Regions from separate parts of the Homo sapiens genome. Here region 2 is linked to region 1. Evidence: fine-mapped expression QTL. A gene starts in region 1. The other region holds a variant in brackets. All regions are shown on one strand. Distances are from middle to middle.

The links. PIP is the estimated chance that this variant, and not a neighbour inherited with it, causes the effect.
Region 2: its variant is the best candidate, but not a certain one, in a credible set for the expression of E2F7 in monocytes (Quach 2016, PIP 0.87).

Annotation. Positions count from the first base shown.
Region 1 is chr12:77,063,546-77,067,940 of GRCh38, reverse strand. It overlaps E2F7 (E2F transcription factor 7), which reads left to right and starts at 2,372. Exons shown (of 13, transcript NM_203394.3): 1 at 2,372-2,596; 2 at 3,306-3,398. The coding sequence starts at 3,306. RefSeq lists enhancers at 1,753-1,982, 1,718-2,424 and silencers at 2,033-2,462, 2,483-2,532.
Region 2 is chr12:77,029,778-77,034,172 of GRCh38, reverse strand. It overlaps E2F7 (E2F transcription factor 7), which reads left to right. Exons shown (of 13, transcript NM_203394.3): 8 at 131-316; 9 at 1,051-1,123; 10 at 3,841-4,342. Among named protein-coding and RNA genes, the nearest start is that of E2F7, 34 kb to the left of the region's middle. RefSeq lists an enhancer at 922-2,121. The variant G/A (reference allele first, on the strand shown) is at 2,211.

The sequences.
Region 1 (4,395 bases):
GATGCAATTAAATTGAAGATCTCAAGATGAGATCATCCTGGACTATCCAGGTGGGACCTAAATTCATTGACAGGTGTCCTCATAGGAGACACACAGGAGAGACTTAACAGACAAAAGAGAAAGCAACGTAACTATGGAGGTAGAAATTGGAGTGAGGCTGCCACGTGTCAAGGACTGTTAACAGCCACCAGAAACTGGAAGAGGAAAAGGACAAGAGCCCCAGAGGGAGTGTGGCCCTGGGAATACCTTAACTTTCCAGAACTGTGAGAGACTAAATCTCTGTCCTTATAAGCCAGTTGTAATTTGTTACAACAGCCATAGAAAATGAATACTGTTGGGAAAAGTATTTCCTTATCTAAACTTCTGCTTCCACATATGTGCAAAATTTAATAAGTTGCAATTTTTTATTGTTTAAACTTCTCATTAGGTTTCTACCTACAAAAGAGATTTCAGTTCAAAATGTTATTCCTATAAAAAATGTCAGATTTTTATTACTATTTTCTTTTGTTTAATGTTTTGCATACTTTTCTCTTTTCAATGTATGACCTAGCAGTGATTTTTTTTTTTTTAGGCCGTATTTACCAGCAATCTAGAGTACGAAGTGAAGGACTTGATTGAGCATTCTGAATTCTGCTGAGAGTTCATTTAAAATATATGTATTTGAGGCCGGGCACGGTGTCTCACACCTGTAATCCCAGCACTTTGGGAGGCCAAGGCAGGCAGGCAGATCACCTGAGGTTAGGAGTTCGAGACCAACCTGGCCAACACAGCAAAACCCCATCTCTACTAAAAATACAAAAATTAGCTGGGCGTGGTGGCGCACGGCTGTAGTCCCAGCTACTCGGGAGGCTGGGGCAGAGAATCGCTTGAACCCAGGAGGTGGAGGTTTCAGTGAGCCGAGATTGGGCCACTACACTCTAGCCTGGGTGACAGTGCAAGACTCCGTCTCCAAAAATAAAATAAAATAAAAATATTTGGAGGGTAAGTGGTGAAGAATGGAGTCTTGGTATAGAAAGGAAAATGATACCTTTGCTGTAAAGTAGATGGGGGGTAGGGACATGTCTGTACATTTAAGAATGTCTGATGCTTTAAGAAGGCTGTCTCACATTTCAGTTGAGGGATATCTTACAAAATACTTGACCAATACTACTCAAAAATGTCCAGGTATCAAAAATGAGGAAAGTATGAGAAACTGTCATAGCCAAGAGGAGCCTAGAGACATAGGAACTAAAGGTAATGTGGTATCCTGAACAGAAAAAAGGGCCATTAGGAAAAAATTAAGTAAATCTGAATAAAGTAATGACTTGAGCTCAGAAGAATGTACCAATATTAGATCATTAATTTCAAAAAATATTCTATACTAACACAAAATGTTAATAGTGGGTGAAATTGGGTGCTGAATATATGGGAATTCTTGGTACTATCTCAATTTTTCTGTAAATTGAAAACTTCTAAACAATAAAGTCTGTTTTGTAAAAAGTCCATCTCTACCAACATTCATATTTTAAACAAGAAACTGTAGGATGAAAGAAGTGAAACATTTAATACAGATCAGTGGTGTTGAGGAAATTTTCTAGACTGTCTCCCAGAATGCTAGTCCCTATTGCAAAGAACTACTTTTTTATATAAAGCTTTTTCCCTCCTAATTATTTGCAATTTGCCGAAAAGGGAACACCAAAAAACATTTCCGGATTTGCCACACACACAAAACAAACAAACAAAAAAAAGTTAGAAAAACTTCTGGTTTGGCTTCCAGTCTTGTCTCCAGGGCTAACTGGCGTGCCATCTGCTCGCAGCAGAGCGGTAACCATGGTTCATGTGTCACACCAGCGTGCGATGTTAAGAAGTTTGCCCCGGCAAGTCTGGACAACTCCGCTTCCGCACAGGTTGCTGAGGGCGGGCGGGGATGGCGGCAGCAGCATCCAGAGGGTGTAGATCGTTCTTCCAAACCCCATCTGCTTTCCTGTCCTCTGGCTGTGCCCGGGGTCCCCGGGCGCGGCAAGCCGCGGGGACGTGCGCGGGTCTTCTATGCATAACAAAAGAGCCCTCCTCCTCCTCTTCCTTCTCCCGCCGCCCCGCGCCGCCCCGCGCCGCCCCCACCTTGGCTTCCCGCGGCCGCCGGGGCCCGCGTCCCCAGCAGGAATTGGCTCCCGGGCCCGAGGTTTCCAGGTACCCGGAAGGGGGAGGGGGCCGAGGCGGCAACAATTGGGCGGGTGAGGGCAAAACGCGCGGCTCGGAGCGCCAAGACTCCGAGGGGCGGTGAGCCCGGGCCGTGCCGCCGCACGATTGGCCGGGGCCGCCCCGCCGGCCGCCGCTGATTGGTGGATTCTCAAATTCGGTCTCAAGGCGCCAGAGGAGGTGTTTTAGCGGGGACTACGATCCAGGCTGGAGTTGCGCTCGGCCGGTCTGAGCGCTGGCGCTGCCCGGACGCCGCGGGGTCCCCGCCAGCCCAGGGCACTCGGCGCGGGGATCTGCGCGCCTCGCTCTCCCTTCCCGATGCCGCCGCCCGGCTGCTGATCGCCGCACCACCTTCCCTCATCGGCTTGGGTCCGTGGAGGTCCCTGCAGAGGCAGGAAGCCTCCTTAGGAAAGCAGGGGTAAGCGTGCGGCCCCAGCGCCAGTGGGGAGGCGGGAATTGGGATACAGGGCCCACTCCCGCCCCGGCTGCCAGCCTGCCACTCCTCACGTCCCCCGGCTGGCGAGGGCTCGAGGTGTTTCTGCCGGGGAACCCGGTGCGCAGAGGGTGTGCCGGGTGCAGCTCTCACTCCGGCCCGGCAGTAGAGGGGATTTGCCCTTCCCCACAACTTGGAGCTTTCATTGGAGAAGTTTATTTGGGGGATCTGCTTGGAGGCCTGGGAAGGGGCTGCGCTCAGCGCTGAGTGGGTTTGGTCTAGCGATCGGGTTTCCTTCCCCCGATTCAAAACCCCTCAAAGCCGAATTCCTCTCAGTTCTTTGCGCCAAAATTAACTGACCTGGGAGACCCTGTACTTTTCTGACAGATTTGCCCAACACCCTTCCGACTTGGTAACTTTATTTTGCCATCTAGCTTTTCATAAGGAGTTACTATTTTTGTAGATTTTTTTCTTCCCAGATTTTCAGTATTACTAAGCACACTTTAGGTGTTTGAGTTTGTTCGCGTGAGTTTTAGAAAGTTGAGGGTGGCTACAACTCCTGGAAATGCCCAGGATGTGCTTAGAGAAGGGGGAATTTCATATTGACAAACAAGTAACACATATGTAGATATTTTTGTTTGAGGAAAAAATACCTAATTGCAAAATCATTTTCTAGTGTAATTGTGCATTACAGATGGAGGTAAATTGTTTAACACTAAAAGACCTGATCAGCCCCAGGCAGCCCAGACTAGATTTTGCAGTTGAAGATGGGGAAAATGCACAAAAGGTAAGCAAACATAAACACCTTAGTTTCTAATATGTTAAGGATGGTGATGTTGAATTCAATTAAGTGTTCCAACATGCCATTTGTATTTGTATTTAAGCATAATAATTAATATTGATAAACATTATAGAAACATTCTTTTTTAAAAATAGAGCCATCCAAACCATTATTGTTGGAATTCTACTCTCAGATATAGTGGGAAAAATAGGCAAGGTTACATGTAATGTTGTAACCAATTTATATAAGTCAAAAATATGCTGGCTACAGCAATCAAAGTTTATAATACAGTTGTCAAGGGTGGTGTAGCTAGTGCTCTGTAGGAATGCTAAGCCTCAGTTCCCAGGAAAATAGACCTTTGCAGGCATAAATGCTGGATTATTAAAGTGCTGTGAAATGTCTTCATACCAATGAACTAGCTCCCAGAGACTGTTCCATTCACCCAAGAGTAGACCTGTGCCTACTATATAGGGAGATAAAGTGGCTGAACTCATCAGTATATTCTGAATATTTTACCATACTGTTGCTAGTTTTGCACTGAGCCATTCCCTTACATTTTGCACCCCTTGTGATTTGTAAGACCAAGATGTTGTTTTCAAGAACATTACAAAGTAAACTGGCCATAACAATGTCTAAACTATCTGAGCATTTTTAGGCACAGGCAAATAGAAATAACAAACCAAGTTTTAGAAACTTTGAATATAAATCTGTGAGTAGCAACTTGGGCATTGAACTTCTCCGAGCTCCTGGTCTTATTTTTAGGCTTAGCATCAACAGTGAAACTCCTTGGTTGCAAAGCAACCCAGGCTCATATGAGCCTTTGAAGAATACTTGATAATTGCTAATTTAGGATAGATGCGAAATTGTATGCTCCCCCATCTAGGGATTTTTTTTTTGTCCGGCATTTTGATTTATTTTTATTAGGTAAAGAAATACAGTAGTTCCCCTTATCCACAGGGAATGTGTTCCAAGACCTGCAGTGAGTACCTGAAACTGTGGATAA
Region 2 (4,395 bases), 34 kb after region 1:
TGTCTTAGTTTTTGATTTATAGGGTGATAGCTCCATTACAATTATAGGTTCAAAGCCATCTCTTAAATAGACGAAAATTATCCTGAATTACAGCTGTATAACAACACTACCAATTCTCTCGTTTATGTAGATGAAGAACTGGTGGATGTTTCTGCATCTGTCTTACCAGAATTGAAAAGAGAAACATATGGCCAGATTCAAGTCTGTGCAAAACAGAAGCTGGCTCGCCATGGTTCTTTTAACACAGTTCAGGCTTCTGAGAGGATCCAGAGGAAAGTGAACTCAGAACCGAGCAGCCCGTACAGAGAAGAACAAGGTATCTGCCCTTGCATAATCTATGGAGTCCATCAGTTGCCATGTAGCTGTAGCCCATGCCAGTGCAGCACCCACGTGCTGGCGTTTTAAAACAAACTGACTCTCAGCCCTGGCTGTTTTTTCCAGTGGTCTACTTTTTACTTAGCTGAAGTGAAACAATTATTGGAAGCAAAGGAGATGCTGATATCACAGTCTATGAACATGACCCCTTGCCTAAAATTGATCCTAGTCACCTTGTAGACCAATTGGTTTGGCATAGTTGACCCTATTTGATGTATCTCAGAAATTCATTAGACTTAAAGCAATGCTTGTTTTAAATACTTCTTTTTTCTTTTTCTTTTTCTTTTGAGAGAAAGGTCACTCTGTCACCCAGGCTGGAGTACAGTGGCATGATCACGGCTCACTGCAGCCTTGACCTCTCAGACTTAAAGAGTCCTCCCACCTCAGCCTCCCAAGTAGCTGGGACCACAGGCGTGCATCACCATGCCTGGCTAATTTTTCGTTTTTTGTAGAGACGGGGTCTCCCTGTGTTGCCCAGGCTTATTTTGAATTCTTAATGAGACCTGAATTCATGAACAGCTAGCTACTGAAAATTTCTCTTTGAATCAAAACCATAACAGATTTGAGTAATCTTTGAGCTGAGAATAATGAATTCTCAGCTAGATAATTCTCAGTATATAGTTGGTATGTATAAGTCTCTTGCTATATTTGTTAAGCCTTCATCTTCCTTTTCAGGATCAGGTGGCTACTCTTTAGAAATTGGAAGCCTGGCAGCTGTCTATAGACAGAAAATAGAAGACAATTCACAGTAAGTAGTCTATAAAAGCTCAGAGTGTATTCTTTTCTATCTCCTAGTGTTAACTTTGACTAAATTGCAGTGCCACCCATCAAAAGAAAAAATTTAGGTCAGCCGTTTATTTGTTAGGAATTGGTAAGTTTTCTCTTTGTGCCCTACACTGTGCAGGAAGTAGCATCAGGGATACAAAAGTATGAAAAATGTATCCTGTAAGCTATGATGGCTTATAGGAACAAGATAAAAAGACCAACACGGAAAAGAGACAATTCATAATTAACATGACCCTGAGAAATGAAGTATCAGAGTTCCATGAATCACTTCATCATTATCATAGTTGGTTTTGCCACTAACTACCAGGTACCGTTCCAGGAGCCTTAGTGTATATTGACTCATCTGATCATAAGAGCAATCCTTTGAGGTTTTACAGAGAGGTATTACCCTCATTTTACAGAGAGGAAGCTGAAGTGCAAAAAGGTTATGTAACTTGCCCAGTCACATTGCTAATAGGTGACAAAGCTGGGATTCATACCCAGGCTGTCTGACTTAAATTTGGGGCCCAATTTTGAAAGAAATCATGTGTCACCAGAGAAAGCAGAAGAAACGCTAAACAGAGTAATTAGAAAAGTGTTTAACAACAGATGTGGGAAGAAGCAGATTACAAGGCAGGGCCAGGGAGCAGAAGATACCAAAGCCTGGCTCGTTTTGCTGTCATGGTTTGTCCAAACAGGACAGGAAAAGGAAAAATCATTCAGCAAAAGAGGTTAGGTGTTGGAGGCAAGTAGGTCAAGTTGGCAAAAAGCTTTGAAAGCCAGAGAAGAGTTGGATTCATCAGGGAAACCATAAAGAGCTATTGGAGGTTCACTGATGAAGATCATCCTGGCTACTTTTTGCAGGTGGGATTAGGAGTAGAGAAAGACAGGCCACAGAACAGAGCATTTGTAGTCGTTCTGGTCTGCTGTAGGGCAGAGCTGAGCTGTGCTCACCAGAGGTGGAAAGAAAGGGAAACCAGTGTGAGACAGTGAGTTGGCAGGGCTCGCTAAAGGAGACAGGCATCAGAAAGAATGTCTGCATGTCAGGTGATAGTGATGTCATTGGTGGA[G/A]ATGGAGAAGTTGAAGGTGGATGGCTGGGTGGAGGGATGGTGGGTGATATACCCAGGGTGGGCATGTTCAGTTTCACAGAGCTGAGCAATACCCATTACTCAACCAGAGGCAGCTGATTGGAGAGATGACTCATCTCTGCGGCCCAGGGTACTGCATTTTATTCTCAGCAGCGCAGTAGGCAGTGAGATGGTAGGCAAAACAGGTCTTCCATGATTCCATCAGAAAGACGGAAAGAAATCCTGGTCCTCTGTTTACTGTTTTTTTTGTTGTGTGTTTTTATTTTGTTTTGTTTTGTTTTCTGCTTTTTGCTTTTTCTTTTTGGAGACAGAGTCTCACTCTGTTGCGCAGGCTGGGGTGCAGTGGCATGATCTCAGCTCACTGCAACCTCCGCCTCCCGGGTTCAAGCGATTCTTGTGCCTCAGCCTCCAGAGTAGCTGCGATTACAGGCGTGTGCCACCATGCCCAGCTAATTTTTGTATTTTTAGTAGACACGGGGTTTCGCCATGTTAGCCAGGCTGGTCTTGAACTCCTGACTTCAGGTTATCCACCTGTCTTAGCCTCCCAAAGTGCTGGGATTACAGGCGTGAGCCACCACGCCTGGCCCTCTGTTCCTATTTCTTAAAGGATCGTTCTTCTCTATTCCTAAAAATATACTAAGAACATAAACATGGTTTTAAATATTTGGAAATTTTTCCAAACAAAAGGCCCAAACATTGTTTATATCTTATTTATTTCATTTTCTTATTTTAGAGACAGGGTCACCCAGGCTGGAGTGCAGTGGCGTGATCGTAGCTCACTGCAGCCTCAAACTCCTGGGCTCGAGCAATCCTCCTAGGCCCCCCACAGGAGGCATGAGCCACCCTGCTGGCCTATAAACTTGTACATTTATGGGACTTAATTTTGATTGTGTGCTGCCTAAAATTTTGTTAATAACACCGAGCAGAATGGGACAAGAATGACAGAAAATAATAATTTAGAAGATAAGTTTGTTTCCTCACTGTCCACTTCATTTCTTTCATACTGGATTTGTGAAATGAGACAAATGAGATTAATCTTTTTTTAAATCAAAGTCCAGTCTCTGTTACTCTCCCAGCGTCTCTCACAGTCACTGAGAACATGGGTTTTGCCATCAAACAGATGTGGGCATGGGGCCCAGCTTCTCACTTCAGAGCTGGCTCACCCGAGGCAGGGTGATCAACCTCTGCGCTTCAGTCTTCCTCGCTAGTAAACTGGGGAAATGAGAGTAGCTATTATTATAATAATTGCATAAAATTGTTATACTATTAATGCTAATTATAATAGTATGTACATGCCTGGCAAGGGTGTAAGTGCTTGATAATTGATAACTATCAGATGTGGAAGAGATGAAGGAGGAATGAATGTTCACTCTCACCTGAGATTCCAATGGCTCTTCCCACTTCGGCTCTCCCACCCCATCCTAACCATTTATCCAGGCCATACCTGGGCGTCTAACTCTGGGATGAGCTAACACGTGCTCAGCAAGTGCGCTTTCGTATCTGCCTGAGGAGTATTATCTCATTCTTGATTTGGCATGGCTGTCTTTGGGAAAGTAAAGGGTCAGGAGTTGGTAGAATGTGCTAACTTCGTTACGTTTCTTTTTTATTATAGGGGAAAAGCCTTTGCCAGTAAGAGAGTGGTGCCTCCATCAAGCAGCTTGGACCCTGTTGCTCCTTTCCCTGTCCTCTCTGTTGACCCAGAATATTGTGTTAATCCTTTAGCCCACCCAGTATTTTCTGTTGCTCAGACGGACCTGCAGGCATTCTCCATGCAGAACGGTCTGAATGGACAAGTGGATGTCTCACTTGCTTCTGCAGCCTCTGCTGTGGAGAGCCTGAAGCCAGCACTCCTTGCTGGCCAGCCTCTAGTGTATGTGCCCTCTGCCTCACTGTTCATGCTGTATGGAAGTCTGCAGGAGGGACCAGCGTCAGGGTCAGGGTCAGAGAGGGATGACAGAAGCTCAGAAGCCCCAGCCACAGTAGAGCTGTCATCTGCACCCTCAGCTCAGAAGCGCCTCTGTGAGGAGAGGAAACCTCAGGAGGAGGATGAGCCAGCCACTAAAAGGCAAAGTAGGGAATATGAAGACGGCCCGCTGTCGCTTGTCATGCCCAAGGTAAGGGAGTGCAGGTGGATGTGTCTGGTGACATCCTGTTAGCCCTGAGCTTC